Linked DNA regions of Homo sapiens. The protein of the gene in region 4 purifies or fractionates together with the protein of the main gene of each other region. This does not show direct contact. Each region holds a gene or a part of one and is shown on either strand. Other genes may lie near its edges.

Region 1 (4,192 bases), on a different chromosome or scaffold from region 4:
AGCATCATCTGGATTGGATTCGATATGATTCCTGAGGAAATGATATGTAAGCCAAAATCTGAAGAGTTCGGGGAAAGGATATGCTAGGCAGAGGGAAACGTAGGGCAAATGTGAGACCAAAAGACCAATTAGGTGGCCTTTGTAGTTGACTTAGACTATACAAGGTTTATGGTAGTGGAGATTAGGATAATATAATGAAAGATATGTTGGAAGTAGATTCAGTAGGTCTTGAATTCACTGGGTGTAGGGGAAGAATGAAGTGGGAAGGAATCTTACAGGTTTCTGGTTTGAGCTCCTGAATAGATGGAAGTATCATTTCCTGAGATTGAGAAAACAAAGTTTTTGGTGGAAAATGGTGCACCAGAGGTTGTTTTGGGGTAAAATTAGTTGGATATGTCACATGTGCAGATGGGAGTCTAGACCTGAGAAAAGAGGCCTGTGTTGAAGTTGGTCAACTAACAGACATTTCTGGAACTCCCATGAGACATTGAAGAGTATAGGCAAAGTCCAAAGTCTCTGTTCTTGAGGAGCTTACATGTAATTCTAATGGTACTGGCATTATTTGAGAGGCCTTGGCACATCACATTGAGAGTCTTTAGCACATGAAATTGAAAGCCCTGGGAGTTCATTTTGGAGAAAAGTAGAAGAGGACAGTGGACCAATCCCTGAGGGCCTCCAACATTTAGTTCTTTTATAAAAGAAGAGGCCCAATAGAGAGGTAGCAAGAAAACATGAAGAGGAGTATCACAAAAGCCATAAGAAGAGGTGTTTTTCAAGAAATTGGTTTAGTAAACTGGATTGAGTGCTTCTGAGAAGTCCCCTAAGATGAGAACTGAAAAGTGTCTATTGAATTTGACAACATGGAGATCATTGGTGACCTTAGAAAGAGCAGTATCAATGGTTGCAGAAGCCAGATTGGATTGAGTTGAAGAATGAAGGGTAAGTAAGAAAGGGGAGATGGCAAGTTTGCCTAAGTCTTCCAGAAGAAAGTCTGACTCCCTTTCAGAAAGCAAAGATAGAAATAGGATGTTAGCTAAGAGGATCTGAAGTCAAGGAGGGTTGATGTAGGGAAGGAGAGCTTGAAAATACAGGAGAGAGGAGAGATATCCAAAGGAATAAAGTCCCTGAGAGTCCAAGTGGGAATGGACTCCTGGTAATTGCAAAAGGGATCCCACATTATAGGAGGTGGGAATCTTCCTCTTTGTAGCTGGAAAGAAGGAGGTGAGGATGGATGCAGGTACCAGGTATTTGTAGATTTGGTGGGGAAAAGACAAGGGAATTCCTATAGGATTGTTTTGTCAGGCTAGGATAAGGGAGATAGGCTTGTTATGCTTAAGAAAAGCTGGAGATGAAGATGTTTGAGAACAGTGGAGAAGGTAGAGTAGATGTTGACAGTGGGAGATTGAGAAAACTATTAGTGCTGATGAACATTAATGTTAATGATCACGATGACATTATGACATAATGGTGGACATTAATGTTAATGATTATGAATCTCTAGTATTGCCATTCTGCCTGATGGCGTGGTTTTAAAATGTCTCCTTGTTTTACATTTAAGCAATTTCTCTAGTTATTTTTCAATTTATAGAAACAAATCTAAGCATATCTGAGACAATTTTTGTGAACCGAAGTAGAGCCTTTAGTTTTAAATCCCCTTTATACTAAAGTCATTCCTGAGTATTAGCAACTCTTATTGGATGAATTTCCTTTATGAAATTTGTACTTCATTTAGATATCATACAGTTTTCAAAGTAATTCTAAAACATTGAGTTGAATGTCTGAATGATTTATCAGAACTTTAGATGAGTTGGGCCACATTTGGTTATAATAATACAATCAAAGCATTCCTATTTAAAAGTAAATGAAACTTGGCCGGGTGCAGTGGCTCACACCTGTAATCCCAGCACTTTGGGAGACTGAGGCAGGTGGATCACCTGAGGTCAGGAGTTCGAGACCAGCCTGACCAATATGGTGAAATCCCGTCTCTACTAAAAATACAAAAATTAGCTGGGCATGGTGGTGGGCGCCTGTAGTCCCAGCTACTTGGGAGGCTGAGGCAGGAGAATTGCTTCAACTTGGGTGGCGGAGTTTGGCAGTAAGCCAAGTGGCGCCACTGCACTCTCAACCTGGGCGACAGAGTGAGACTCTGTCTCAAAAAAAGTAAATGAACCTTAAGAGACAATGAAAACTATAATCCTGTTTTCAAAAATTAGTAATACAATCTAATCTGTTCTGTTGTCTTTCTTATAGGAATAATTTATGATGTTATTGTTGAACCTCCAAGTGTCGGTTCTATGACTGATGAACATGGGCATCAGAGGCCAGTAGCTTTCTTGGCCTACAGGTAAAAGATACCTTTTTGAATGATTTGGTGGTGGGAAAGAAGGTTGCTGTGGTATGCCCACTTATTTAAAAATAGAGTAAAACCTATGGGATCCATGTGTATTTAGACAACAGCTGTTTTAAAATGCTGGATTCTGAAATGGCAGAAAGTGAGTCAAAAACAAGAGTATATTATTTATTTATTAAGAAATAAAGTATTTCATAATGATGTATCACCAATTTACAGTAGGGTGTCAGTTTAAACTACATTTATAGATTGTTCTGGGGGTCAGTGAACTATAGCTGCTTTTTTTTTCTTTTCCCCAAAAAAGTTTTATTGGAAGTAAGTATGCCCATGTGTTTTATATGATCTATGGCTGCTTTTAAGCTAGAGTGGCTGAGCTGAATAAGTATGACACAAACCATATACCCCACAAGCCTAAGATATTTACTATATGGGTATTTAAGAAAATATTTTTGGACTATACCCTGGTCTATACCATTAAATAACAAAAGTATTTTTGAGACTTTGAGGGTTCTGTTTCATCAGTGAAACCCCGTTCCAGTGTGGTTTTGTTCACCTGAACAATGCTTATATTGCTTTCTAAAATTTACTTAATATCTACCAAAACATAGCTATATGTTTATATTTGCAGTAATGCTATTTATGCATAGAATATTTCTGGAAAGATTTATTAGTATTCTCTGTGGAGGGGAGTTAATGACAGGTTGATGGTAGGGTGGCTCTTCATAGTGCCCTCTTTCACACTGTTTGAATTTTGAACTTGGTACATATATTGTGTTTTCAATGAAAACAATTGACCAAAAAAAAAAAAAAATACCCTGTTTACATATGCCTATGTATAATCATCCCTTTAACGAGAAATTTTCTTCTTGAGGTCCTTGAACTATGAGAATTTGATAAAAGCTCTGTATCCCTAGAAAAATCACACACACACACACTTTTACATATAATTAGAGGGGTTTGTAGTTCACTGAAGTTCTTATGGGACCCATGGAGCCTTATTTAAGAACAGTTTCTTTTTAAAATATTTCCATTTGAAACAAGAAGTTTATTATTATTAACATAAAACTTCAAGAAACACATCTAACCAATTCAAAATTAGTTTGAATTGATAGTAGAAATTTAAATAGCATAACTTTTTAAAAAAAGCTAACCTAGACCGGGCGCAGTGGCTCACGCCTGTAATCCCAGCACTTTGGGAGGCCGAGATGGGCGGATCACGAGGTCAGGAGATTGGGACTATCCTGGCTAACCCGGTGAAACCCTGTCTCCCCTAAAAATACAAAAAATTAGCCAGGCGTGGTGGCACGCGCCTGTAGTCCCAGCGATCTGGGAGGTGGAGGTTGCAGTGAGCCGAGATCGTGCCACAGCACTCCAGCCTGGGCGACAGCAAGACTCAATCTCAAAAAAAAAAAAAAGCTAAGCTAAAGTTCTGGGTAAAGCGTTCGTATACATAAAATATGAGTATTTATTTTACATAAACAGTTGTGTTAGTTGAGGTTTTACGACATTTTTTGAATGTGAACTCCATGAAGACAAAGATTTTTGTCTGTTTTATTCATTGTTGTATATCCCCCAGAACCTAAAACAGTGCTTGCTACCTAATAGACTCAATAAATATCTGTTGAATGGACAGATGAATATCCAGAGGTATAGTAAAATAGTTGTAAGGCTAAGAATAAGAAATATAGCACAAAAATGTTTTGGCACAAAAACGGAAATAGGAATTTCAATTTAAGGGAAACATTTCTATTTGTTATCTTTCTATGGTCATTCTTTTCTTTTCCAGAGTAAATGGACAATATATTATGGAAGGACTTGCATCCAGCTTCCTATTTACAATGG
Region 2 (4,192 bases), on a different chromosome or scaffold from region 4:
ATTTCAATGTATCCAAAGGTTCTTTTCTCCTTTCCCTTCTCCCATCATTTCTTCCCTTCACTCCTCCTCTCATCATTTCTTCTCTTTATGCCATTTCTAAGTAATAATTTACTTCTTCATTGTCTGATACATTTTCTCTCCAAATTCCCTAATGTTCTCCCATCTCCTGTTCTCTTCTGTTTTTCCCTCATCTGTTTACAGATCTGGGTTTCTAACTCTGTGTGTGTGTGTGTGTGTGTGTGTGTGTGTGTGTGCGCGCGCGCGTGTGTTACACATTCTGGTTAACTAAAGAGATTTTAGGTTGCAATGGCAAAACATACTGAACACTTAAATGTGGGCCTCTAATTTCCCTAATATATCCTTTAAACAACACACGCATATATCCTAGTAATGTTACCCCTTATTCACGAGAGTTGAAATGGTTATTCACAAGAATTTACTCAAATAAAAATGAGTTTAAAAAAACTATTAAATATATGAACCCATATAGGACTATCATTTCAATCAGTATTTCCCAATACTTCTTAAAGCAATAGTCCAACAAAGTACTCCACAGAAAAATAATGGTTGCATGGTCAAGTCATAAGGCACAAATCATACTAGGTACTTAAAGAGTGTAAGAAATCCTGAAATGAAGAAACTTGCTTAACCTTATTATCCAGCTGTTCCCAAATTTACTAAGCTTATGAGCTCTTTTTTTCTCCCCCAGCACCTATTAATATCCCACAGAACATGCGCTAAGGAAATGTTAACCCTAACCACTGATTAAAATATACTATGTAAAGCATTATACTTAACCTAGTAGCATAAATCGTTTTTAAAATGGTGCTGCCTTTGAAAAAACCTAAAATGGATTTATAAAGAAAATAATCCAAGTTGCTAGGTGCAAATGGCTCATTTTAAATATTGCATGTATATTTACCTTACTTAGGTTAATTTAAAAAAAAAAAAACCATAAGCACCAATTGGGATTTTGATTTGGGAGGTGGGGTGGGCAAACAGCAAAATTTTCCTTGAAGTATAACATATGGAAGAGAATATTTTATAAATATTAACTTCTAAGACTGTTCTTATTTTTCCATCAATTTTCATGTTTGGTCTTTTATCAAATGGGAGAAAAAAATGGAATTTTATGACTTACAAAATCCAATGAATACACAGGCATGCTATATTGAACTTTCCTGAAGGTATGTTACACAACAATACAAGAATTTTTTAATGAAAATGCATCAATTTTCCCTTTAATGTATACTACGAATTATTTACTTCACAGGTTTTAAAGAGTGTATTTTAAAGTACACACATTTTACCTGAAAGCTCCATAAAGTGGTCTGTACCAACAGACAAATGAACAAGGAGTAAAAAGCAAGAACCACAGGATACTCAATCCAAAATCAACCGCTCTTGCAGAATCAACACAAAACCAAGCCAAGCATCCGAAGATATTTAGAAACAGTGTTACTGCATGGACTGTGGAATCAGAAAACAAAATAGAAAAAGAAAGATTTACATTCAATTTATGAATTCATCCAACAAAAAATTGTAAATAAAAAAATACTTCCTAAGAGCAAATGTATTCTACTCCATGTTTCCATTTATATTTTTCAAAACACTGTTGTATCTTACATATTTGATTTGAAAACAGAGTATACACAGGAAAGCGAGTCTTAATACATGTACTGTTTGGCAAAAATTCTGTTGGCCCTCTCCTCCTCACAGGCAATGATGTAGCTAAACCAGAGGCGCACTACCTTAAGGGCTTCTTCCCGAAAAGGAAACGTGATGTCTCTTGATCTGAAGCCCAAGAAGAAAAGCAGTGTCTGCCAGGAAAAGACCCAGGACTTAGGAGGAAAAACCATATCTTTACAGAATGGGGCTGCAGACTAAACACTGGACTAAAAATACTAATACAGTAGCAATTTCTAGTGACTATATAGTCAATGTATAAGGATTGTTCATTCAACTTCATAGAGCTGTCCATTTGTAAAATCCTGAAAAAAACTTGCGTTTTGGTAGAGGATTAAATTTATTAAGTCCCCTCCTCACTCCCCCACACAACATGATACATTTTAGCTACTGTGGCAGGCTTTTCTTTTGGTTAACACAAATAGATGTTGACAAATTCATCATATGCTGTTAATAATTGCTTTCCCTGACAGACCAAAAACAAAAAATCTGAGTAACATCTAACTATACCATGATCCTAAAGAACTACTTTGACCCATTGTAATTAATAACTGTTTCAAAGGATTTTTTAAAAATTTATTCACAGGCTGAATTTATTATAGTAAGTACATTCTTATATAAGCTAAAATGATGTTTAATGTAAATTATCAAATCAATAAAAATATGCCAACAAATTACTTGAATTAAAATTAACAACTGGGAAAACCTATTGGATCTAGTTTTTTAAATCTCAAACTTTAAGATTTCTTTACAAATCAAATAAGTTAATAATTAATGAAACAGGATACACACACACATTCTGGGATGCCTAAATTTGCTCTTACCTAACCCACCAGATAAGTAAACAAGCTCTAGAGTTTTGTTTTTTGTTTTTTTTTAAAAAGAGCTCCAGATGAAGTCACTTAGGTTGTAGTCATCTAATATTAAGCCAATCACTCAACCTCTGTAAGCTTCAATTTTTCAGCCATAGAAATGCAGGAGCTTTTCCCACTTTAAAATCCCATTCAATTCTATCACAAAAGAGACACTCTCACTCATTACTCTAGTCCCATTAGGATTTTTAACTCTCAGGAATGCTTGCTCATAATAAATTTACTCAAAACCCTTGGCCTCAAAATAAGGGTGGTTGTGTTAAGATCTTAAAAACAGAATTGAAGATTGTGAAATAGAAAATTATTACTCTGCAGCATTAAATAGCATCCAGCTGCCTTAAAAAGTTTTAGACCTTAAGAACATTCTAACTTAAATTTCAATTTTCAAATTAGGTTATTTCCTAATCCACTGAAAGAAAGATAAAATATATGTATAATTACACTTTAAAGTTCATGAAAATTATTCCAAGTATAGATGAAAATACAAAAATTAGCCAGGCGTGATGGCATGTGCCTGTAGTCCCAGCTACTCAGGAGGCTGAGGCACGAGAATCACTTGAACCCGGGAAGCGGAGGTTGCAGTGAACCAAGATCGTGCCATTGCACTCCAGCCTAGGCAACAAAGCAAGACTCTGTCTCAAAATAAAATAAAATGCTAGGACAATTTCTGCCCATTTAAAAAAATAAACATATATAAAATATAAATGCATATATTATATTGATTAAATAAGAGTTGGTTAGCATGTACATATATGGAATCAGACATTTAATATTAAAAATATATACTACTGACACTGAGGATTCAGCAAAAGATATTAGATCAAGAATATCTCGAAAAATACTAATGAAGAGTTAAAAATAGACTATCCATTAGGAAACACTTCTCACATTCCAAAACAACTTGACATACATGAAGAATGCTCCTAAAAGATTTTAAGGAAAATTATCTCATCCATTAAGGGAAGGGTGGTAGTCTCATTAATCATAAAGTAAAAACAAGTAAATTTCCTCCATCAAGAATGTACCCTACAAATTATCCATTAACCCAGATGTTGTGCATGTGAGAACCCTCAATAGCTACCTCCCCTTCTGACAGGGTATCAAAATGAGGCTGAGACTACTGTTTGGAATAAAAATGAAACAGAGAGTAAGTGGGAGGTCTGTGCACACAGAGTAAAACTGTTAACGGCTTGACATTTTGTTTCAGTATTCCATGAGTTATTATACTCAAAGTGATGTAAGCATCAGAGCCCCAAACGTATATTCTAATGTTCCGTTCAACAAAATGTCCTGTATTAATTAAGCACTTTCAATAATAAAAGTATCGCAATTGAAAACAAAAAGTAAACTGTACTCAAAGCTATAAAAAGAACACTTAGTTTATGTAATAATTTTATGCCCTTTTAAAAATAGCTAAAACGCCTACATTTAACAGAATTCTTTTAAATGGCCTTCCTCTGCATAAAATTAGTATGCACTATTTTTTCCAAGCAAATCATGTCTAGATAACATCTTTCAAGGAAAAAGAATCTTATAAAATTTTACCCACATGACAGAGAAGTTGTCTTTTCCTCAAAAGAATGCCAGTTCTCAACATACAAGTTTTTCTCAGCCAAGGACTTACATTGTCACAT
Region 3 (3,713 bases), on a different chromosome or scaffold from region 4:
CTGGGCAGAGATGCTGGGGATCTGTGTTATTTACAAAGGGAACTAATGTGGAACCTTGGTATCAAGATATGCCCAGGGCCTGAGTAGGGCCTGTCCCAGGACTCACAGGCAGACACATGGTCACAGAATGCCAGTAGCCCAGAAGAAAACAGTAAAGAAACAAAGAAAACAAAATAGGTCACCATTTGAAGCCCTCTCCTAAGCCTAAGGGGTGAAGGCCATGTTTTCAGGCTCAGCCCCGCATCTCTCCCCTAACCCCTTTTCTTTAAAGGGACAGGGTCTCCCTCTATTACCCAGACTAGAGCACAGTGGCATGATCACAGCTCACTACAGCCTCACCCTCCTGGGCTCAAGGGATCCTCCTGCCTCAGCCTCCCAAGTAGCTCAGACTATAGGTGTGTGCCACCACACCCAGCTAATATTTTTTCTAGCAATGGTGTCTTGCTCTATTGCCCAGGCTGGTCTCAGACACTTGGACTTAAGTTATCCTCCCACCTCTGAAAACGCTAGGATTATAGGTGTGAACCATATGCACCCAGCCTCCATCTCTTGTTATATGCATTCTTGTGGCTGGTGGTCGGGGGAGGGGTGGGGGAGGGACAAGGAGCAGAACCGTGGTAAAAGGAGGCAAGGGACGAGGCAAAGAGGCAGAGCCAGAAAGTTCCTCATTTTATACATAAGGCATTGGGGCTGGAGGAAGAGATTTTTTGAGCAGAGCAAGAAGACTGGAGCAGAAGGGAGGAAGGACAAGAGGCTGTGATGTGATCTCTAGTTTTGTTTAACCGTGTTCCTTGTCTTCCATATTCCAGATGTTTTGAGGAACACTCAAAACACCTGGTCCTGTTGGGGCCATCAATCCTAGCACAAAATAGGCCAGGTGCGGTGGCTCACGCCTGTAATCCCAGCACTTTGGGAGGCTGAGGCAGACGGATCACATGAGGTCAGGAGTTCAAGACCAGCCTGGCCAACATGGAGAAACCCTGTCTCTGCTAAAAACACAAAATTAGCCGGGCGTGGTGGTGTGCACCTGTAACCCCAGCTACTCAGGAGGCAGAGGCAGGAGAATCGCTGGAACCCGGGAGGCAGAGGCTGCAGCGAGCCAAGATCGCACCACTGCACTCCAGCCTGGGCAACAGAGCGAGTCTCCATCTCAAAAAAAAAAAAAAAAAAAAAAATTCCTAGCACAAGACCTAAGCCAGTCTGTCTGAATATGTGATGCTATTGGACCTGGAAAACAGTGAGCACTGGGCATGTCACCCGAGCAGAGCAGCGTGTCTTCACTGGCTGACGTATCATGGTAGACGAAAGACAGTCTTTTAGCTCTAGGGCTGCAAAGCTGGAAAGAGTAGACTCTAGGGCTGCCACTGGCCATCTTTCTACTTTGTGAAAAGATCTTGCCTGCAGACTGAGGCCAAAAAAAGATACACAGGGCTAAGGCGTGGGCACAGAGCCCTGGTATGTATGTGTACATACATACATACATACATATATATATATATATATATATATATATTTTTTTTTTTTTTTTTTTTTTTTGAGATGGAGTCTTGCTCTGTCACCCAGGCTAGAGTGCAGTGGCACGATCTTGGCTCACTGCAACCTCTGCCTCCAGGGTTCAAGCGATTCCCTTGCCTCAGCCTCCTGAGTAGCTGGGACTACAGACGTGCACCACCACGCCCGGCTAATTTTTTGTATCTCAGTAGAGACAGGGTTTCACCATGTTGGCCAGGATGGACTCGATCTCTTGACCCTGTGATCCACCCTCCTCGGCCTCCCGAAGTGCTGGGATTGAGCCCTGATATTTTTGAGACTCTGGATCTAAGCATGGTTGAGGCTAGAACTCCAATTTCTTAGTCTTTCCAGTTATATAAGCAAATACATTCTTTTTGCTTAAGCTACTTTTTTTCCCTTTTTTTTTGCTTAAGCTACTTTGATAGAGTTTTAGTCACTTGCCACTTATGAGAGTTATGATTAATATGGGCTATAGAGGAGGGAGATTAGATTTGTTCTAGATGATCCCAGAATTAAGACTAAGGTCTAAAGATGGAAGTCACAGCAAGGGAGACTGCAGTGTGAATCAAGACCTTGATAATGACAGGAGCTGTCCAGAAAGAATGGGAATGTTAGGAGGGAGTGTCTTCTCTGTTGCTGGATGTAGTAGAGCAGGGGTCTGCAATCTTTTACTTAGAGGGCCAGATTGTAAATATTTTAGTTTCTGCAGGCCATATGGTCCCTGTCGCAACTACTCAACTCTGCCATTGTAGTGTGAAAGCAGCCATGGACAGATATGTTAATGAATGACCATGGCTGTGTTCCAATAAAAATTTATAGAAACAGGCCTGCTGGCCCACGCGGGCTGCAGTTTGCTGACCCCTGAGCTAGAGAATCATCTGTTGAGACTGTTAGAGAAGAGGGGCACAGTCACCAGACTGGAGGTAGGGGTACAGCACTACACTAAATGATCCTTCCAGTCTTTTCCAACTTGACTGTTTTTGGGAAACGGCATTCCCAGCTTCGATCAACTGACCTACAACTCTATTTTGCAAATACGCCTGACTGCCACAGAGGACTGCTTGCTTCTGGGCTCTGGAGACCCAAAGTACAGCAGGTCAGAGTAAGTCTTGAGTATTAGTTTTGGAGGTGAGGGGCCCAACAGGGCTCCTCCAAATTCCTCTCAATGGCTCATCTGGTTTGTGTATCATGAATGAATCTAGTAAAACTGTCGTGGGGACATCTGTATTCTTGCCCACGTCTCTCTCTCGGGACAATGAGCTCTGTGAGTTGCCCTAGTCAGGTAAGCCTGGCTCCCTCTTATTATTGGGCCACACTTTACCTATGTGGGGTCACAGAGTTAGGAGGGCTCCGAGGTGCCTGTGAAAAACTTTCCCATCCTCTCCTTACTCTGCAGGATTGAACAGTACTTGCGTGAAGAAGAGAACACCTGCAGAGACAGGATACCTGCAGCCCTAAATTTGGGTTCTACTATTTAGACTATTTCAGCATTTTGTGCTTTTATCTTTATTAACTCCTTTCTACTTTTCTTCTTTCATGTTACTCTTATCTTTTCCTTTTTCTCAAGGTGTTATTAGTCCCTCTTATTTCCTGTGAAGAGCACTGCAGGTGACATATTGCTTTCAAGTCCTGCTTTGGCTATGGCTATACCTCGTAAGTTTTACAAGCATTATTCACATTGTCACGTATCCTGATGGCCTTTGTCTCCCAAACATACAGAATACAGATTCTTTCTTTCCTAAAAAGATCCATCTTCTAGAGCAGGAACAGTTCTAGGTGGCTTTGGTCCTCCCCATTCTGGGTGGAAAAGGAAGATTCAGGCACTTGGGTTTTTCTCCCAGCATCCTCCTCCTGACCTTCCTACCCTATGAGGACTAAGAGGACCTCCTCAAGGAGGGCAGTACCTTGTTAACGAAATAAAAGATGGCATAAACCAGGACGTAGAATGCAGAGCCCCCGGAGACTAGGAAATTTCTCCACCACCAGCGGTAATCCTGAGGAGGAAACAGAGGAAGGTCAGTGTTGTCCTGGGGCAGAACCCCTTCCTACCAATTTCACAGTTGCTTGAGGGGCTGAAGACTCTGGTAAGAGCAGTAACATATGGGGTGATGGAAATGTTTCACAGCTTGACTGTGATGGTGGTTCCAGAACTGTATGCATTTCTAAAAACCACAGAACTGTGGACAAAGAAGGGTGAACTT
Region 4 (4,192 bases):
TGAGGGTTGCCCAGGCTCTACAAGTCTACCCAGGCTCTCTGGGATGATAACCTAAATTTCAAGTAGTAATTTGAGAGCTGAAGAACGGGGATAGAGAAAAGAGAGTAATTTTCAATGAGGACATTAGATGCCACATTTAAACAATTCAGTTAACTCTCAGTAGAGAATGAAAGACTTTACTCATAATGGTTCTTTATTATCAGCCAGCCTACAAAGCTTATGGAGCTCAGTCCGACTGAGGCCACCTACAAAGCTGGAATGTTAATAGGCTTATTTCCAAACATGTCCCAGGAAAACTAAGACTACAGTGTGGCTGGAATTAACTTTGTTCCTCACAGCTTATAACCTAATAGAAACAAAAAAAACACTTGAATATTTAAAAAAAAAAAAGGGTGGGTGTCTAGGGAAAGGAATTCATCTTCCTGGCTAGACAGAACAGATGGATAAATTATTTTAATGCCATACCTCTCTCTTCCAAGAGACAGCTTCATAACACACTTTTACTATTTATTCCATCACCACCTCAAACTGTCCTCTTGTGATCTCTTCGTCTGTATTATTCATTACTACTTCACTTCAGCAAATTGTCATTTGAAAAATAAATAACAGATATCCCTTCTAGCACAGAAGAGGAAATTAACTTCTTACCCTTAAATACTGTGGGCTTCATGACTGGGTGCGGTGGCTCACGCCTGTAATCCCAGCACTTTGGGAGGCTGAGGCTGGTGGACTGCTTGAGGTCAGGAGTTCGAGACCAGCCTGGCCCACATGATGAAACCCCGTCTCTACTAAAATACAAAAATTAGCTGGGCGTGGTGGCGAGCGCCCATAATCCCAGCTACTAGGGAGAGGCTGGGGCAGGAGAACTGCTTGAACTCTGGAGGCGGAGGTTGCAGTGAATCGAGATCGCACCACTGTTCTCCAGCCTCAGCAATAGAGCAAGACTCTGTCTCAAAAATAATAATAATAATAATAATAATTTGGGCTTCAATTCAGAAACTAGAAGTAGATACTTAATCATTTATTAGAATCATTTCATCTACTCATTTAGCAACAATTTTCTGAGTGCTTTATTTATATGCCAAACACTCAAAAGATGAAGACACAGCCCTTGCAATCCAAGGCATCTCTGACATGAACAATATAATGCTGTATCAGTCTGACTTTGGAGGTCACGCACTCCAGGAAAAAATAAATGTGTCATCCCTAATATAAATAAACCATAGCTTGAATGAATGAATGAATGAATGAATAAAGCAATAAACCAACTCAGGATAAAACATGAATCCAAATAAATACAAGATCTACCAAGAGGGAGTTTGCTGTTTTTTTCACCACGGGTCCAGCCCCCATAGTAGCAATTACAAGATATTTAAGGCTGAGCTTACCGGTTCCTCCACGGGAGGCTCCTCCATATTTAGAGGGATTTTTGACTCAATGTCCTCCCAGCCAGGAAGGTGGTTAGAAGCTGGGGTGTCAGTAACAATGCCACCATTTTGTACCTTGATGCCATTCACTCTCTGGCAGGTAGAAGGAATGTGGTGAAAGAAGAGGCTCTTCTGTGGCATAGGTAAAAACCAGGCCACAGCAAAAGCCACTGAAACACAGGTAAGAGAGATGACATTCAGGCTGAACAGCGACCAGCCTGCCACTGAGACAAGGATTTGCCCTAGGACAGAGCCCACTGTAAAGCCCACCAAAGTGGCACTTCGACAGTAACTTGTGACTTTCTGGTACATGCCCAGGTCCACCACACTGTAGATATAAGAGTAATAGGCAATTTCAGTGGCTGTGGCGATGCCATAAAAAAATTCTAGAAATTGAATGGCCAGCAGTCCCTGGGCATAGAGCAGCATAAACCATGTAACAATAAGGCTGAGCCCCTGCAGTAGAACAACAGGTTTATAACGGAGGTAGTCTGTGGCAAGGAACACAGGAAACAGTAGCACCAGGTAAGAGTAAGTCCATACTGGATAAATTTCATTGAAGACCTGGTAGAAAGAGAAAAAAAAAAAACAAAAAACATTAGTGATGAAAGGACCTGGAATACTCATAAAGAATTTATTCATAAAAAACAACCTACAAATACCTCAAAGATCTCAACCTTGACAACAGCAGTTCAGATAACTTTGAAAATGTCTTTTCTCTCTTTTTTGTTTGAGATGGAGTCTTGTTCTGCGCCCAGGCTGGAGTGCAGTGGTACGATCTTGGCTCACTGCAACCTCTGCCTCCCAGGTTCAAGTGATTCTCCTGCCTCAGCCTCCCGAATAGCTGAGATTACAGGGACCCACCATCACGCCTGGCTAATTTTTGTATTTTTAGTAGAGGTGGGGTTTCACCATGTTGGCCAGGCTGGTCTCAAACTCCTGACCTCAAATGAGGAGCCTCCCAAAGCGCTAGGATTACAAGGGTGAGCCACCTCGCCCAGCCTGAAATATCCTTTCCTATCCCCAATACCATCATCTTTTTCCTAATAAATTCTTCCCATTAATCAAGGCCTAGTTCAAAGACTTCCTTATTCAGAAAGACTTTGCGGAAGCCAAAAGTACTTGTATTACAACATTCAAACCCTTTTTTTTTTTTTGGTTTTGTTTTTTGTTTTTTTGAGACAGGGTCTCCCTCTGTCACCTAGGCTGGAATGCAGTGGCAGAATCATGGTTCACTGCAACCTCCGCCTCAGGTGAGGCTCAGGTGATCCTTCCACCTCAGCCTCCCCAGTAGCTGGGACTACAGGCCTGTACTACCACAACCAGCTAATTTTTTTTTTTTTTTTTTTTTTTTTTTTTGGTAGAGATAGGGTTTCACCACGTTACCCAGGCTGGTCTCAAACTCCTGGGCTCAAAGCAATCCACCAGCCTCAGCCTCCCAAACTGCTGGGATTACAGACATGTGAGCCATCTGGCCTAGCCTCAAACTCTCCTAATACTGATCTATATGCATCAGTTTCCCCAATTAATTCATAATACTGGCTCTTCACCATGGCTGCATCTCCTAAGAAGCTTTAAAAAAATGTGTTAGCCAAGCGTTGTGGCACATGCCTATGGCTGCTACTCAGGAGGCTGAGGTGGGAGAATTGCTTGAGCCCAGGAGTTTGGGGCTGCAGTGACTTATGATCACACCACTACACTCCAGTCTGTATGACAGAGCAAGACTCTGTCTCTTTAAAAAAAAAAAATGCCCAGCCACAGATATTTTCTAAAAACTTCCCAATAGAGTTTTAAATGAGCCAGAGTTGAGAACAACTGCCTTATAGGCTTTTTAAGGATAGACCCCTACATTCACCTGTATAACCTGTCTAAAAGCCAGCATACTGTTTGGAAGATACTATTCAATAAATGCTTTGAAAACGGAATCACTGTCAATTCTTACTTCTAGACACAAGATAGGGAGCCTTTATCCTACTGTTTCATTAAGCTTCTCTGACTTTAAGTTTTGTTTCTTTTGGGGCAGAGGAACAAATAAAGATGGTCAATGTGTCCTACAGTCTTGACAGAATTAAGTCTCTCTAGATGGCAGGAATATAGGCAACTTTTATGTCCTTCTTTTTGCTTGTTTTTAAATAGAAAAAAGAAGTTTTTGCTGTTTTCTTTCTAATGCATATTTTAAAATTGGGATATAGTAGAAATGATCTTTAAAATAAACTTTAAACCAGAAAGACCCCAACAGGAATTTCAGTTCCATCACTTGCTGTGTGATTGTAGACAACATTCTTTTAGTTCCCCTTAGCCTTAATCTCCATTATCAGTAAAGGGCGGTTGTTTGTTGCAAAAAGTAAATGAGACACAACATGTAAATTACTTACTCCACCTGATTTATTCACAAAGTCTGAAGACTAGAGGACAAGCTGACAAGGACATCTGGGGCAGTATGAATTAACTAAATTAATTGAGCTATCATTCCCATTCTTCCAACAACAATCACTGTAGGAGATTTTTCCTTCCTTTTGTCAGTGGCCTCAACTTTTAAGTGCTTTTTGAAAGGTAGTTTTGGTAAAAGGCTGAATACTTTGTGATGAAGCAACCTAATCCCAGACTTTTACATTCTGAGACCAATAGTAACTTTCTTTTTATCTTTCCTGTACATCTCAGTTCACTCAAGTCTAATATGAGCTAAGGTTCTAAGGTTTTAGGCAAACAATAAAAAATTGTTGCAAAATCTCTTGCCAGTGCAGAGCATAGCTATAAAAGTAAAA
Region 5 (4,192 bases), on a different chromosome or scaffold from region 4:
AAAGGAGAGGTGAGGGTGGAAGAGCTGCAGGCACCTAGTGCCCATCCACACCCCCCGGGAGCTTCCCTTACTCCCTCCCAGCTACCTGCGTCATGGCAGTGTCGTGCCATCTGGGCCGCAGGCTCCGGAAGAGTGGAGAGCTATAGAAGCCCACAACTGAGGACACCATTAGGTAACTGCCACTGCATTAAGGAAGAACTGGCTGGCTCCAAGAATTAATAACTCATCTCAAAGGGAACAGAGCTCTCTCCCAGCCCACTTCTTTTTTTTTTTTTGAGACAGGGTCTCACTTTGTCACCCAGGCTGGAGTGCAGTGGTGCGATTTCAGCTCACTGCAACCTTGACCTTCTGGGCTTAAGCGATCTTCCCACGTCAGCCTCCCACGTAGCTGGGAATGCAAGCACGCACCACCACGTCTGGCTAATTTTTTGTACTTTTTGTAGAGGCCGGGTTTCACCATGTTGCTCAGGCTGGTCTTGAAATCCTAAACTCAAGCAATCTACCCGCCTCAGCCTCCCAAAGTGCTAGGATTACAGGTGTGAGCCACTGCACCTGGCCTCTTTTTATTTTCTTCTGATCAGATTCTACTGAACCACCAGCCCTCCTTTCAAATTAAGTCTTTTCCTTCTTTCTGAACCTGAGGTTGATGAAAACTTGCCCCACTTCCCATCAGCGTTGCTCAGAGTCCCAAAGGAGACAAAGTCCAAGAAGTGCTCGGTCTAGAGTCCCAGGAGACAGGTTTGCTGAACAGAGGCAATGATGGGTTTCCAGAAGGATACAAGATGAGTACAACCTGAATGACGGCACCAAAGGAGCCCAGCTTGGAGAAGGAGACCTGGCCTAAGGAGGTACCCTGAGGAGTGGGGCAGTATCACTGTGAGCATTCCCCACCATCAGCACTACCCGGCACCCAGCCTTCCCACTGTCCTCAGCTTCTGCCTCCTCTCCCCAGCTGTTCTTAGGCCCTCCCCAAAGGATATGGTGGGAGGGCAGCCTGGTACCTGCATGCCTCGGGGCATGGCAGCCTCATCGATGAGCAGCTCCAGGATGTGGATGGCCACAATGAGCACAGACAGGCCCTGTGTGAGGCAAGGTCAGACTCCCATTCCACCCCAGACCACAGCTGGACCCAGAGCTAAAGGAATGGGCAGACTCTGGTCCAACATTTTCAGTTTCCAAGACTAGCTCTGCTTCCAATGAGCTATATGGGACCTCATCAAGGCTGCTATTAGCAACAGAGTGCCTTTGAGGATATTATAAGATACATCTCCTCTAGATGGAAGGATTGCAAAAAGGCTGAATAGGAAAAGGCATCTCTCTTCCTTCAACTGATGAGATCTATAACTGAGTCCATAGGGGAATCGACTGAATTTCAATGTTTATTATTTTAATGCCAGGGCAAACCTGCACAACTCCTCACTGGCCCTGTGTCTTTGGGCAAGTCACTCAACTCTGTCTCTTCGTCTACAAAATGGGGATTGATGTGCTCAACATTTGTGCTCACCACAGGCAGGACATAAAAGTAGGCACTCAGTGAGAAGCAACCACTATTACTGATGATAACCAGGTCCCTGCATTGCCTCCCCTCTCCCTGAGAAGGCCTCAAGTACTGAGGGTCCACTCCTCACCTCTAGGGCTGGTATACCTACCGTCAGCACCAGCAAGCACAGCATAGCCAGGGGGTAGCCCAGGTTCCGTTGCCAGGCTGAAGCCTTCCGCCTCTTCTCTGTGCAGGGATGGGAGGCTGTCAGCAAGCACCTGGAACCAGGGGCTACTCTCCTTGGGGAAACCCAGGTATCCCAAGCCCTACGAAGCCACATACCCAGCAGGACCCTCTGTGTCTGCAGAGCCAGGACCTGTCTGTGTAGCAGCTCCATGTCTAAAGGCAGCCAGCAGGAAGTAGGATCTGAGGGCAGAGAAGATGGTGTTGCTCTCAAGTCCTGCAGTTTCTGCCCAGGCCAAGCCTACCACCCCAGCAGGGAAGAACTGCAACTTACTACAGATCCTGCGGGTCAGGGCTGCCTCCTCAAAGGCTGAGCAGTACAGCTGCTCCTCCAGGTCTTCCAGCAGCTAGGGGCAGGGGAAAGGAAGAGACTAACTGTCAGAGGCTCCCTGACCCAAAGGCCCCAGGAGAACCCTGTTCTTCCCAGGGCTCCGTAGTCCCAGGCTTCCCCCAGACCCTCATTCACCACCCTGTGGCCCGCAGCTTTGCTCAGTCCCTCCCAATTGCCCTGTATTCTGCCCTGCATGTCTAGTGACCAGCTCTGCATGATAGGGGTACAGAATACAGGAACCAACAAAGGCTGTAGCTCTCTGCAAGTTGTGTACTACACAACCATAGGGTTGTTTCATTGTTTGGTTCCAGCTCTGCAGGAAGCTCACCCTGCAGGATCAAAGAGCAAGGAATACCACATACCCGGGGCTTGACTAGCAGCTTCCCAGTGACGGAGAACATGCGGGCGAGACCCAGTGGAGTACACACTGTAGGGACAAGAGCCAGTCACTTGCCAGACCCTGCTCTCCACCCCTTCCCTAACATGCCCCCCATTCCCTTTCCTTCTAGCCTGGTTACTCTGGTCCAAGGACCCTGCCCATTCCCTCCCAGACCCTGTACACTCACCCAGGAGCAGCAGAACCCCAAGGAAGGAGATGCATGAGTAGAGGTAGGGGAGATAGTACTCCCAAAAGTCTAAGGATAAAAAAAAGAGGCATGTCAGCTCATCTCTCCTTACTTACTGTCCCCAGGCTGACAGGCCTCAGAGTCTAGACAAGGGCACAGTCCCCACAGGGGTTAGGCAATTAATACAAATGAAGAAAGCTGGCCAGCATTAGCAGAATAGGGAGTGGCAGGGCCTATAGTAAACTGGAGATCCTAACCCCTAACTAAAGGGTACAACTGCTATTTGGCCCCCATCACCAGGGACTAATGTAGCCAGATCTTCTCCTTGTCAAACAAAGTTAGATATCTGGATATTAATGTGAAACCTCCCAATTTAAAATGTTAGCAACTGAATAATATATATTTTTAAAACCATTGCATGGGCCCAATGAAACATTTCTGCAGATTGCATTTGGCCAGATGTCTATCAGTTTGAAACTTCAGTCTAAGGGAGAAGGTGCCAACATTTTCCACTTTAGAAGGTTACAGTCATTCCAGGCAGGGGGACATGGGCCAACTGAAAAGCCATGCAGCCTGGAGGAAGCTGGGCCGCTCACCATAGAGTGACTCTCTGTTGGCCTTGTTCTTGTCCACAATGGCTGATGCCACCCACACCATACCTAGCACCAGCAGAGTGAGGAGCATCAACATCACCACTGTCTCATAGACCCGGCCCAGGACACCCTACGGGAGGAGGCAACCAGTGAAGAAGGTTAACATCAGGGCAGTGTGGGAACATTGGAGATGGCAGGCAGCCTGCAGGAACCAGAAAGGTTTGGATTCAGGAGGTAAGAGAGAGGGTTTTCCTCTTATTCTGCTAAGTTGCTCTGTCTTCCCACTCCCCAGTCTAAGGTCACCCCACATACCAGGTGTTCTTCATTTGCATCTCCTTTCCCCAGACCTATTCCTTGTCATTGTGTGCTCTGGGAGGCTGACCTCCGAGGTCTGCATCCCACAAGCTCTTTGCCCTCTGGTTTCGCATCCAACAGGAGAATGGAAGGTAGAAAAAAGGTGAGGGTATGTTTCCTGTGAGTCCTCCCACGTCTGCCACCATGGTTTTGGCAGTGATTATGACACTAAGACAACAGCTCCTCTCTGGGCAGCTTCACATCCCTGGCTTCAGCTATTAGTGGGTTCTAGAAACCATTTCCTCCCTTTGTCCCTACAGGCCTAAGGGTGGTAATGACTTCCTACTGTCACTAGAGCCTCAAACTTCCGTTAACTAAACCTCTGCAAATAGCCTCTTTATTAAAATCTCTTCAGCTGAACCATGTGTGTGGAATTCCGTTTCCTGCCTGGATACATATCCCCTACTTACCTTTCTGGAGCCAGCAAAGCCCTCAGACTCAGTGAAGAAATATGCAAAGGGCATGAGGAAGATGAGGGACAGGTTGGAGAAGAGAAAAACAAGGTTCCAGAGGCCTAGAGCAAAAAAGGAAGAGCAGAAGTGGTCAGTAAGGGGAGGGGCAACCCACAGGAGACTGACCATTTGCAGGAGAAGCAGAGTGGGAAGGTGCGACATATGACTGCTTG
Region 6 (4,192 bases), on a different chromosome or scaffold from region 4:
TCACAGTGTGCTCAGGCATTGCTAGCTCTGTGGCTTTGGGAGGGTTAGTTAACCTCTCTGTGCCTCAGTTTCAAATTAGATTAGAGAAAATAATTGGCAACCCACAGGGCTGGGGGCAAGCTGAAATGAGGTGTTATACAAAGCAGACAGCTTCTAGTAAGTGCTGCGTAACACATGTTGATTACAAAGTACATAAATGATCACCTTATAAGGTGTAATATGATAAGTGACCATTTGGGAAGAATATGATTGGAAAGTGACCTTCTTTCTCCCTATATTTACTATCTCAGGGCGTCAAAGACACCCTCCATACAACAAGTTACCAAACCCTCCTGGCTTTCAGACCTGTGCCTCTTCTGGGCCTCCCCTCCCAGAGCTGCAGGATGCTCAGCCTCTCTCTGCTTCCTGCCACGCCAGCCCACCTCATTCCTCTGTGGTCTAGGAAAACTCCAGCCTCCTGCCCTGTCCCACCTCACCCACTGGCCCACTCCTCTGGTCTCTGGCACTCCGTGAGAAGCGTGCACACTGGGACCAATACTCCCCACTTCCAGACCTAACGTGGGGGCTGTTCTTCTCTAGGAAGTATTTTAGGAAGCCCAGACTGGGCAGGGGTGGTGAGGTGGTCCCCCTGGCGTGCCCGCGCATCCCTGCCCTGCAAGTCTTATCCACTGCGTGGGAACCCCTCGCTGAGGCTTCCGTCTTGCCCTCTGGGCAGCAGGCTCCTCAAAGGCACTTGCAGGGTCGGCTCCCTCTTTGTATTCCTGCGGGCTGAATGCACGGGCTCCCTAAGAAACGCTGAAAGGGGATTCTGGAGTTGGGTGGGGAGTTGGAATAACTGACCCCACTTCTGTTGACCTTTGAGAGCCTGAAAGCGAGAAGGGAGAAGCGAGATGGGAAGATAAAAGGGAGGGACACAGCAGTTATGGAACCCCTAGGGTCACCCAGGACTAGTTATGGGACCCCTAGAGTCCCCCAGGGCTGGGGAGCTGAAGCCTAACTTCAGGCAGGGCAGGGTGCTGGTCCTGGGAAGGAAGTAAAGGTGGCCCCTCCTGTAAGTGAGAAGCACCAGGGACGGAAAGGGAAAGAAAGGCTTGAAATACCAGCAACTGTGGGGATGGATGCTAGGAGGCAAATTAATACTAGTGAGACCTGGTTGGTGGACTAGTACCCACTGCTGGACTGGGTGGTGGATTAGTACCCACTGCTGGACTGGGTGCTGGATTAGTACCCACCGCTGGACTGGGTGCTGATTAGTACCCACCGCTGGACTGGGTGCTGGATTAGTACCCACCGCTGGACTGGGTGCTGATTAGTACCCACCGCTGGACTGGGTGCTGGATTAGTACCCACCGCTGGACTGGGTGCTGATTAGTACCCACCGCTGGACTGGGTGCTGGATTAGTACCCACCGCTGGACTGGGTGCTGATTAGTACCCACCGCTGGACTGGGTGCTGACTAGTACCCACCGCTGGACTGGGTGCTGGATTAGTACCCACCGCTGGACTGGGTGCTGACTAGTACCCACCGCTGGACTGGGTGCTGGATTAGTACCCACCGCTGGACTGGGTGCTGATTAGTACCCACTGCTGGACTGGGTGCTGGATTAGTACCCACTGCTGGACTGCAGGGGCGCAGCACTCACTGTGAAGGTCAAGGAAACAGTAATGAAATCCCCAGGTGGGAGCAGGTTTGTGAGTGCCTCTCTCAATTTGTTCTTGAGATATGTTAATCTGTTCACTCCAGAGAGGTTTGGAAAAGGAGGCTCCCTTAGCTGGTGGGTGGGGAGGGGAACGAGGAGGGCCTGTCTGCACAGATCTGGGTGTGGAAGGGGTCCTATCAGGCCACCGAGCCTGGCCCATTTCCTCACTGCACCGGGCTGCCTTGGTGCCAGCATGACCCCCACGCAGACTTATCAGGGCAGAAAGCACTAAATATTTGAATACTTTACGGCCACGTGTCTACTTTTAAGTTGGTTTACTATTATTTTTCAATTCCCATGTAAAGTATTTCTTCATTTAAATTAATGAATTGCCACTTTGGTTAGGACCCTATTAGTCCTCAGAAATGGGTTTGCTTTGATCGGACCAACCGGATTCCTGAGTGTACCTGACAGAGCCGGGAATTCCCCCTCAAGCAGTGGTTCTCAGCTGTGGGCAAGTTTGTCCCTCTAGGGGATTTTTGGCTGTCACAAGTAGGAGTGGGGTGACTACTCCTGGCATGTAACAGTTAGAGGCCAGGAATGTGGCTGAGCATCCGATTCTGCACAGGTTGGCCTCTTCCACAATAAAGGATTAATGGGCCCAAAATCTCAACATCGAGATTGAGAAACACCTCGCCCTCAAGGAATGTCACCCTTGAGGCCCTGGCCAGGAGGCCAGCGATGAGGCAACCCTGATGACCTGACTTCTTGTGCCCATCTCTTCTCTAGGCCACAACACATATTCAGTGCTGGGTACTCTGCTCTATGCTACAAACGATGCGATCATACCTCCATGCCATGAATGAGCACCCAGTGCAGTTATGAAGAGAGGACTGTAATCATTGTCATGGCATGTAATTATGCATCTAGAAAGAGTGACTGTTTTATGAAGGGTGAATGGGGTGATGGGAGAGCGTCAGGAAAGCAGAGGCTGGAGGCAGATGCTAGAAATGGACTCACAGGCATAGAAATGGTTCCTATGCAGGCTACCCACACAAAAGGCCGAAGAATCTGCTCACCATCCGCCTTGCAACCTGCCCTTCCCCCAGCAGAAAAGAGACAAGAAAAGAAATGAGCCTGATGACTTACTCCTGGGACGCAGGACACAGTCTGAGATGATTGCATTGATTGTCTGCTGATGGCTGCAGTATCCTGGGAAGAAGATGTGCTTGCATAGACAGATAGTTCTTTAAAATTTCATCCGCCTCGGTTAACCTCTACCCACAGAAGACTGACAGCTCACGAGGAGCCCATGGAGATGGGCAAGAGACCAAATTTCACTCCAGGATCAATTCAAGTCTCCCATTCTCATTTCAGAGTTGATCTAAGATAAGCACTGGCAGGGTCTTTGCAGATAATAATCTGCCTTTAAACCCCGTGGTGGATTTGTGGAAAGTCCACTGAAGAACAGAAAGCCTCTGACTCCATCCACCCACCGCCTTGGGAACTCTGAGAGCAGCCACCACAGGTGTCCTTGAGAGCAGCTGCTCAGTCAAGTTCAATCCTGGGTTACACATTGGTTTTGAGAAGAGTTCATCTTTAATTTAATGTATGTACTGCATTGTCACTCAGATGGTTTTAATCACAAGGCCCTTTCCCTTCTCCCACCATCTCTGGCTAAACCATAATAAAAACAACACTCCCTGAAAACTATAGTAGCTTGTCTTATAAAGTACTGCTGTTAGTTTTTCTCCAAATTCTAAAATACTACCCTTTCTTGCAGTAATTTTGCTGTTCTTAACAACTGGGATGAAAGGCATGCAGAGGTCTACACGGTAGAGATTTGTTCATTATTTGAAAAATATTAGCTGGGGAACGGGCGCAGTGGCTCACATCTGTAATCCTAGCACTTTGGGAGGCCACACTGGGCAGATTGCTTGAAGTCAGGAGTTCGAGACCAGCCTGGCCAACATGGGGAAACCCTGTCTCTACTAAAAATACACACGCAAAAAAATTAGCCAGGTGTGGTGGCGCACCCCTATAGTCCCAGCTACTCAGGAGGCTGAGGCAGGAGAATCGCTTGAACCCAGGAGGCAGAGGTTGCAGTGAGCCAAGACTGCGCCATTGCACTCCAGCCTGGGCAACAAGAACAAAACTCTGTCTCAAAAAAAAAAAGAAAAGAAAAATATTAGCTGGGCATGTTAGTACACACCTGTAGTCCCAGCTACTTGGGAAGCTGAAGCGGGAGGATTGCTTGAGCCCAGGAATTCAAGGCCAGCTTGAGCAACAAAGTGAGACTGGCCTCTTAAAAGAAAGACCAGTCTCACTTTTAACATTTTAAACAAAACTAAAAAATAAATTTACCACATATCTGTTATGTGCCAGGCTCTGCACTGGGCATGGGAGACAGACTGTGGAATATGCCATGGCAAGGTGTGAAGGTACAGGGGAAAGCAGAGCCCAGATGATCTGGGTTAACGTCTCAGCTCTGCTCCTTCTTATGACCTAGCTGAGCTGCTTAATCTCCCTCATCTTTACTTTCTCTCTCTGTA
Region 7 (4,159 bases), on a different chromosome or scaffold from region 4:
GTGGGGCTCGGGGTCAGGGGCTGACTCCTTGAGGCTGCCCTGTGTCTGTCTTCTGTCTTGAACTGATCCCTCTTCAGGGCAGAGAGCCAGCTGCTGCTTGGTGGGGGCTCCACATCCAGACCTGAGGGTGAACCCTGACTCTGCCTGCTGTGCTCTTGGGGAGGATACTTAATCTCTCACCTGTAGAATGGGGCAAGGATGGCATGACTCAGGGATGTAGTGAGGATTACACAGGACATGTAGTCAAGCACTTAACACAGTGCTTAGCGGCTCCCCAGCTTCCCACTTCCAAGGCTTCCTTTTACTTTCTCTCTTGGATCCCATGTTTTGTCAGGATGATGTCTACCAACCAAAATGCATTTAGGAAGTATTGGTTCACTTTTCCCTTTTTCTTAAACCAAGACATCTTCAAATGTCTGCTAGAGCTCTGGTCAACATGGAACCCCGGTATTAACATACTGCATAGATGTAATTCCAGCAAAAAGCAAAGAAACAAGACATCTTACATAGCTTGTGTGGTCTTACCAAGGGAAAATTCATGGTTTGTGTTCATCTTTTGAAATAGTAAAAATAACTCGTGAGTTTCATTTCTACTTTCTTGGAGCCCCAGTCATTGCAGAATCTACCACAGCCACAGATCCCATTTCATTCTCTCCTGCCCCCTGAGGCTTTTATCCTTATCCTCATTTTCAAGGTGAAGAGACTGACGGCAGGTGTAGTTCCCAGCCTTTTCATAATTTTTCATTCACCTCTTTAAATGGCAATTGGGACCTGGGGCAGTGGCTCACGCCTGTAATCCTAGCACTTTGGGAGGCTGAGGTGGGAGGATCACTTGAGTCCGGGAGTTTGAAACCAGCCTGGGCAACACAGTGAGACCCCATCTCCACAAAAAATTTTAAAAAGTGGGTGAATGTGGTGGTGTGTGCCTACAGTCCTAGCTGCTTGGGAGGCTGAGGCAGGAGGATCGCTTGAGTCCAGGAGTTCGAGGATGCAGTGAGCTATGATCATGTCACTGTACTCCAGCCTGGGTGACAGAGCGAGATCCTGTTTCTTAAAAATAAATAAATAACGCAATTGGGTTTTAGCTGGAAAAAAGCAGTGAAGGAGGAGGGAACCTATGACTCTCAGGCTCCAAGATGACGTGCCTGGTAGCTGCCAGATGTTCACATGCCTGAGGGTTTGTTTTATTTGCAGAATGTTTTAGCTGGTGCCTTGTTTGGGCCATGGCTGGGGCTTCTGCTGTGCTGTGTGTTGACCTCGGTGGGTGCCACATGCTGCTACCTGCTCTCCAGTATTTTTGGCAAACAGTTGGTGGTGTCCTACTTTCCTGATAAAGTGGCCCTGCTGCAGAGAAAGGTAAGGGGAGGGGTCACATCTGAGAGCTGGGACCCCAGACAGTCGCTACGTGCATGGCCTTGAGAGAAGCGAGTGGCAGGGATTTCCCACAGTACTCTTCCACGCTGTTTCAGGAGGTCCTAGGGGTTCTTTTGATGTCTTCAGGAGACATAGACCTGGGATCAAATCCCAGCTCCATCATTACCAGCTCTGTGACTTTGGGCAAGTTCTTGACTTCTCTGATCCTCAGCATGTCTATTTTAAAATGAGGAAAACAGTCTTTCCCTGGAGGGTTGTTGGAAGAATTGGGAACAGATTATGTAAAGTGTCTAGAACAGTGCCTGGCACCAGCAGGTTTTCAACACCTGGAGACCCTTTCTGCTTCTTAACAGCTTTCTTCTCTTTGGCTACAGGTGGAGGAGAACAGAAACAGCTTGTTTTTTTTCTTATTGTTTTTGAGACTTTTCCCCATGACACCAAACTGGTTCTTGAACCTCTCGGCCCCAATTCTGAACATTCCCATCGTGCAGTTCTTCTTCTCAGTTCTTATCGGTAAGATGCTAGTGGGGTAGGTTTGAGTCTTCAGAGCTGTCACGCTGGGGGTCTGCCCTGGGTTATTGGCCACGTGAGCATGTGCCTGCTTCTGAGAACACAGGCTCACAAAGTGTGACTTCAAGCCTTATGATCTAAAGAAATGATTCCTGATTTCAGATCTGCTCAGGCTTCAACATGAAAACCCATAAAAATACTTTTGGACTAAATAAAGATTGTCCATTGCATGGCTGTATGCACTAGGCACTGGGATTAGAAGAGATGGTCTGTGTAAAGTATACAAATTGGCCCATAGTAAGTACTCAGTAAATGCTAGCAGGAAGAGCAGGGTTGGAATGAGGGTGTGTGTCCATGAGTTTTGAGTGGGGACAGAAGAAAGGAGCAGAGCAAGGGACTTCCTGTCTGGTTTTTGGCCCCTGTTTTGATTAAGTTCTGCCTTAGGAATTGCTGGCATCAGTGTGGTTCCTTCCTGCCTTTTGACAATTGCACAACCTGCAGCAAGCTACTTACCCTCAATGGACCACCTGGCTAGGAATAGAGCAGTGTTTCTCAAAGTGTGGGCTTTGGGCCACCTTCATCAGATTGTTAGGGTCAGGGGGCTTGTTGAGAATCTAGATTTGGGGCCTACTCCAGACCTACTGAATCAGAATCTTGGGAGTGGAATCTGGGAATATGCATTTTAATCCAGTTCCTAGTCAGTCATTTTCAAACTGCAAACCCAGTCATTCTCAAACTGCAAACCTATTAAGAATCGCCTGCAAACCTATTAAAAATCACTTGGAGGCCGGGCTGAGTGGCTCACACCTGTAATCCCAGCACTTTGGGAGGTTGAGGCGGGTGGATCACTTGAGGTTGGGAGTTCAAGACCAGCCTGGCCAACATGGTGAAACCCCATCTCTACTAAAAATACAAAAATTAGCCTGACATGGTGGTGTGCGTCTGTAATTCAACTACTTGGGAGGCTGAGGCAGGAGAATGGCTTGAACCTGGGAGGCGGAGGTTGCAGTAAGCTGAGAGGATGACACTTCACTCCAGCCTGGGTGACAGAGTGAGGCTCCATCTCAAGAAAAAAAGCAAAAAAACAAAAACAAACAAAACAACAAAACATCACCTGTGGAGATTTTAATCCCTAAGCTAAGGCTACACCACACATCAACTAAATCATCTCTGGGGTAGGACTCAGGGATCAGGATCTTTTAACATTTTCCAGGTGATGCAAGTAGTTAGTCCCTAAAAGGGATTCCGCTGGATCCTGAGTTTTGCAGTCTACTGAATTAGACGATATCTAAAGTTTCTCCTTGCCTTTGACAATTATATGACCTGCAGCGAGCTACTTAGTCTGAACGGGCTACTCGTCCAGATAAGGGGCTGGGACTAGAGCAGTGTTTCTTGAAGTATGGGCCTTGGACCACCTTTATCAGAGTGGTAAAGTGCTAACATCCTATAAAATCAGTGTTTGCTACTTTCTCCATACTGGAAGAAAACCACCCTCCTTAAGCCTAAGGCAAGGATCTCTTCTCTTAAACCTCCCTTAGATCCTAGAGGGAAAGACGATTCAGGGCTTCTAGGTCAAACAGAGCAAATCTGTGGTTGAGCAGCTGCTATTCATAGGAGATACCTGAGAGAAATGGAGATCTTAAATAGAAGCAAGATCTACCACGGCCAATTTTGGTCATATTGGCTTTCAGACAAAGTGCCTCAGGCCCTCAGCTAGTGGGGGTTTGCTGCTTCTAATTACCTAGGTGGCATGAGGCTTGGCAAGATTCTGGAGACCAGGCTTCCTGTCCTCTGTCTCACAAGCTGTGTGACCCTGAGGGGTCTGGGATCTTCATCTCCTGTATACTTCCTCTCCTATAGAAGAGAAATGGACTATCAGAGTGTTCCAAACCAATCGGAATCTCAGGGTGGGAGTGGAGAAGGGGCTTTTAAAATACAGGTTCCTGGGCACTACCCCAGAACCAAGTACCCAGAATTTCTGGGGTGGAGCCCAAGGATGTGGTTTTTTAACAATGTCACCAGCTGATTGTTCTGCAGCCAGCCTGTTCAGCCAGCCAGACTTTTGGAATCCAGTGGATTTGATGACATCTTTGAGACAGTACAGAATGTGAATAGTACTTCTTTTAAAAAACTGTTTGTCAACAATGGCACTTCTCTCTTTACTTTGGCTGTTGGGTACTCAGAACCAAATTTGGGGCCCACTTTTGGCAAACAGGTGAACCTTATGCATTTTTTTACTAACTGTACTCCCTGATGTCTTGTATTCTTCTGCACG

What was found.
Region 1: the proteins of SLC19A2 (region 4) and OSTC purify together in Homo sapiens (affinity purification with mass spectrometry; one large-scale study listed by BioGRID and IntAct). This does not show direct contact.
Region 2: the proteins of SLC19A2 (region 4) and SCAMP1 purify together in Homo sapiens (affinity purification with mass spectrometry; one large-scale study listed by BioGRID and IntAct). This does not show direct contact.
Region 3: the proteins of SLC19A2 (region 4) and TM9SF4 purify together in Homo sapiens (affinity purification with mass spectrometry; one large-scale study listed by BioGRID and IntAct). This does not show direct contact.
Region 5: the proteins of SLC19A2 (region 4) and LMBR1L purify together in Homo sapiens (affinity purification with mass spectrometry; 2 studies listed by BioGRID and IntAct, with this or other methods). This does not show direct contact.
Region 6: the proteins of SLC19A2 (region 4) and AGPAT4 purify together in Homo sapiens (affinity purification with mass spectrometry; one large-scale study listed by BioGRID and IntAct). This does not show direct contact.
Region 7: the proteins of SLC19A2 (region 4) and TMEM41A purify together in Homo sapiens (affinity purification with mass spectrometry; one large-scale study listed by BioGRID and IntAct). This does not show direct contact.

The regions. Positions count from the first base shown.
Region 1 is NC_000004.12:108,653,314-108,657,505, forward strand, and holds part of OSTC (oligosaccharyltransferase complex subunit OSTC), read left to right. Parts: intron 1-2,250; coding exon 2,251-2,344; intron 2,345-4,136; coding exon 4,137-4,192. UniProt on the Homo sapiens protein: Subunit of STT3A-containing oligosaccharyl transferase (OST-A) complex that catalyzes the initial transfer of a defined glycan (Glc(3)Man(9)GlcNAc(2) in eukaryotes) from the lipid carrier dolichol-pyrophosphate to an asparagine residue within an Asn-X-Ser/Thr consensus motif in nascent polypeptide chains, the first step in protein N-glycosylation.
Region 2 is NC_000005.10:78,419,079-78,423,270, reverse strand, and holds part of SCAMP1 (secretory carrier-associated membrane protein 1), read right to left. Parts: intron 1,471-4,192; coding exon 1,311-1,470; intron 1-1,310. UniProt on the Homo sapiens protein: Functions in post-Golgi recycling pathways. Acts as a recycling carrier to the cell surface.
Region 3 is NC_000020.11:32,161,069-32,164,781, reverse strand, and holds part of TM9SF4 (transmembrane 9 superfamily member 4 isoform 1 precursor), read right to left. Parts: intron 3,507-3,713; coding exon 3,417-3,506; intron 1-3,416. UniProt on the Homo sapiens protein: Associates with proteins harboring glycine-rich transmembrane domains and ensures their efficient localization to the cell surface.
Region 4 is NC_000001.11:169,475,767-169,479,958, forward strand, and holds part of SLC19A2 (thiamine transporter 1), read right to left. Parts: intron 1,992-4,192; coding exon 1,389-1,991; intron 1-1,388. UniProt on the Homo sapiens protein: High-affinity transporter for the intake of thiamine. Mediates H(+)-dependent pyridoxine transport.
Region 5 is NC_000012.12:49,100,471-49,104,662, forward strand, and holds part of LMBR1L (protein LMBR1L), read right to left. Parts: intron 4,082-4,192; coding exon 3,978-4,081; exon of another isoform or gene 3,344-3,977; coding exon 3,217-3,343; intron 2,690-3,216; coding exon 2,621-2,689; intron 2,482-2,620; coding exon 2,417-2,481; intron 2,071-2,416; coding exon 1,998-2,070; intron 1,907-1,997; coding exon 1,823-1,906; intron 1,727-1,822; coding exon 1,650-1,726; intron 1,080-1,649; coding exon 1,002-1,079; exon of another isoform or gene 981-1,001; intron 854-980; coding exon 780-853; coding exon of another isoform or gene 699-779; exon of another isoform or gene 540-698; intron 177-539; coding exon 86-176; intron 1-85. UniProt on the Homo sapiens protein: Plays an essential role in lymphocyte development by negatively regulating the canonical Wnt signaling pathway.
Region 6 is NC_000006.12:161,263,919-161,268,110, forward strand, and holds part of AGPAT4 (1-acyl-sn-glycerol-3-phosphate acyltransferase delta), read right to left. Parts: intron 1-4,192. UniProt on the Homo sapiens protein: Converts 1-acyl-sn-glycerol-3-phosphate (lysophosphatidic acid or LPA) into 1,2-diacyl-sn-glycerol-3-phosphate (phosphatidic acid or PA) by incorporating an acyl moiety at the sn-2 position of the glycerol backbone.
Region 7 is NC_000003.12:185,492,351-185,496,509, reverse strand, and holds part of TMEM41A (transmembrane protein 41A precursor), read left to right. Parts: intron 1-1,194; coding exon 1,195-1,356; intron 1,357-1,748; coding exon 1,749-1,887; intron 1,888-4,159.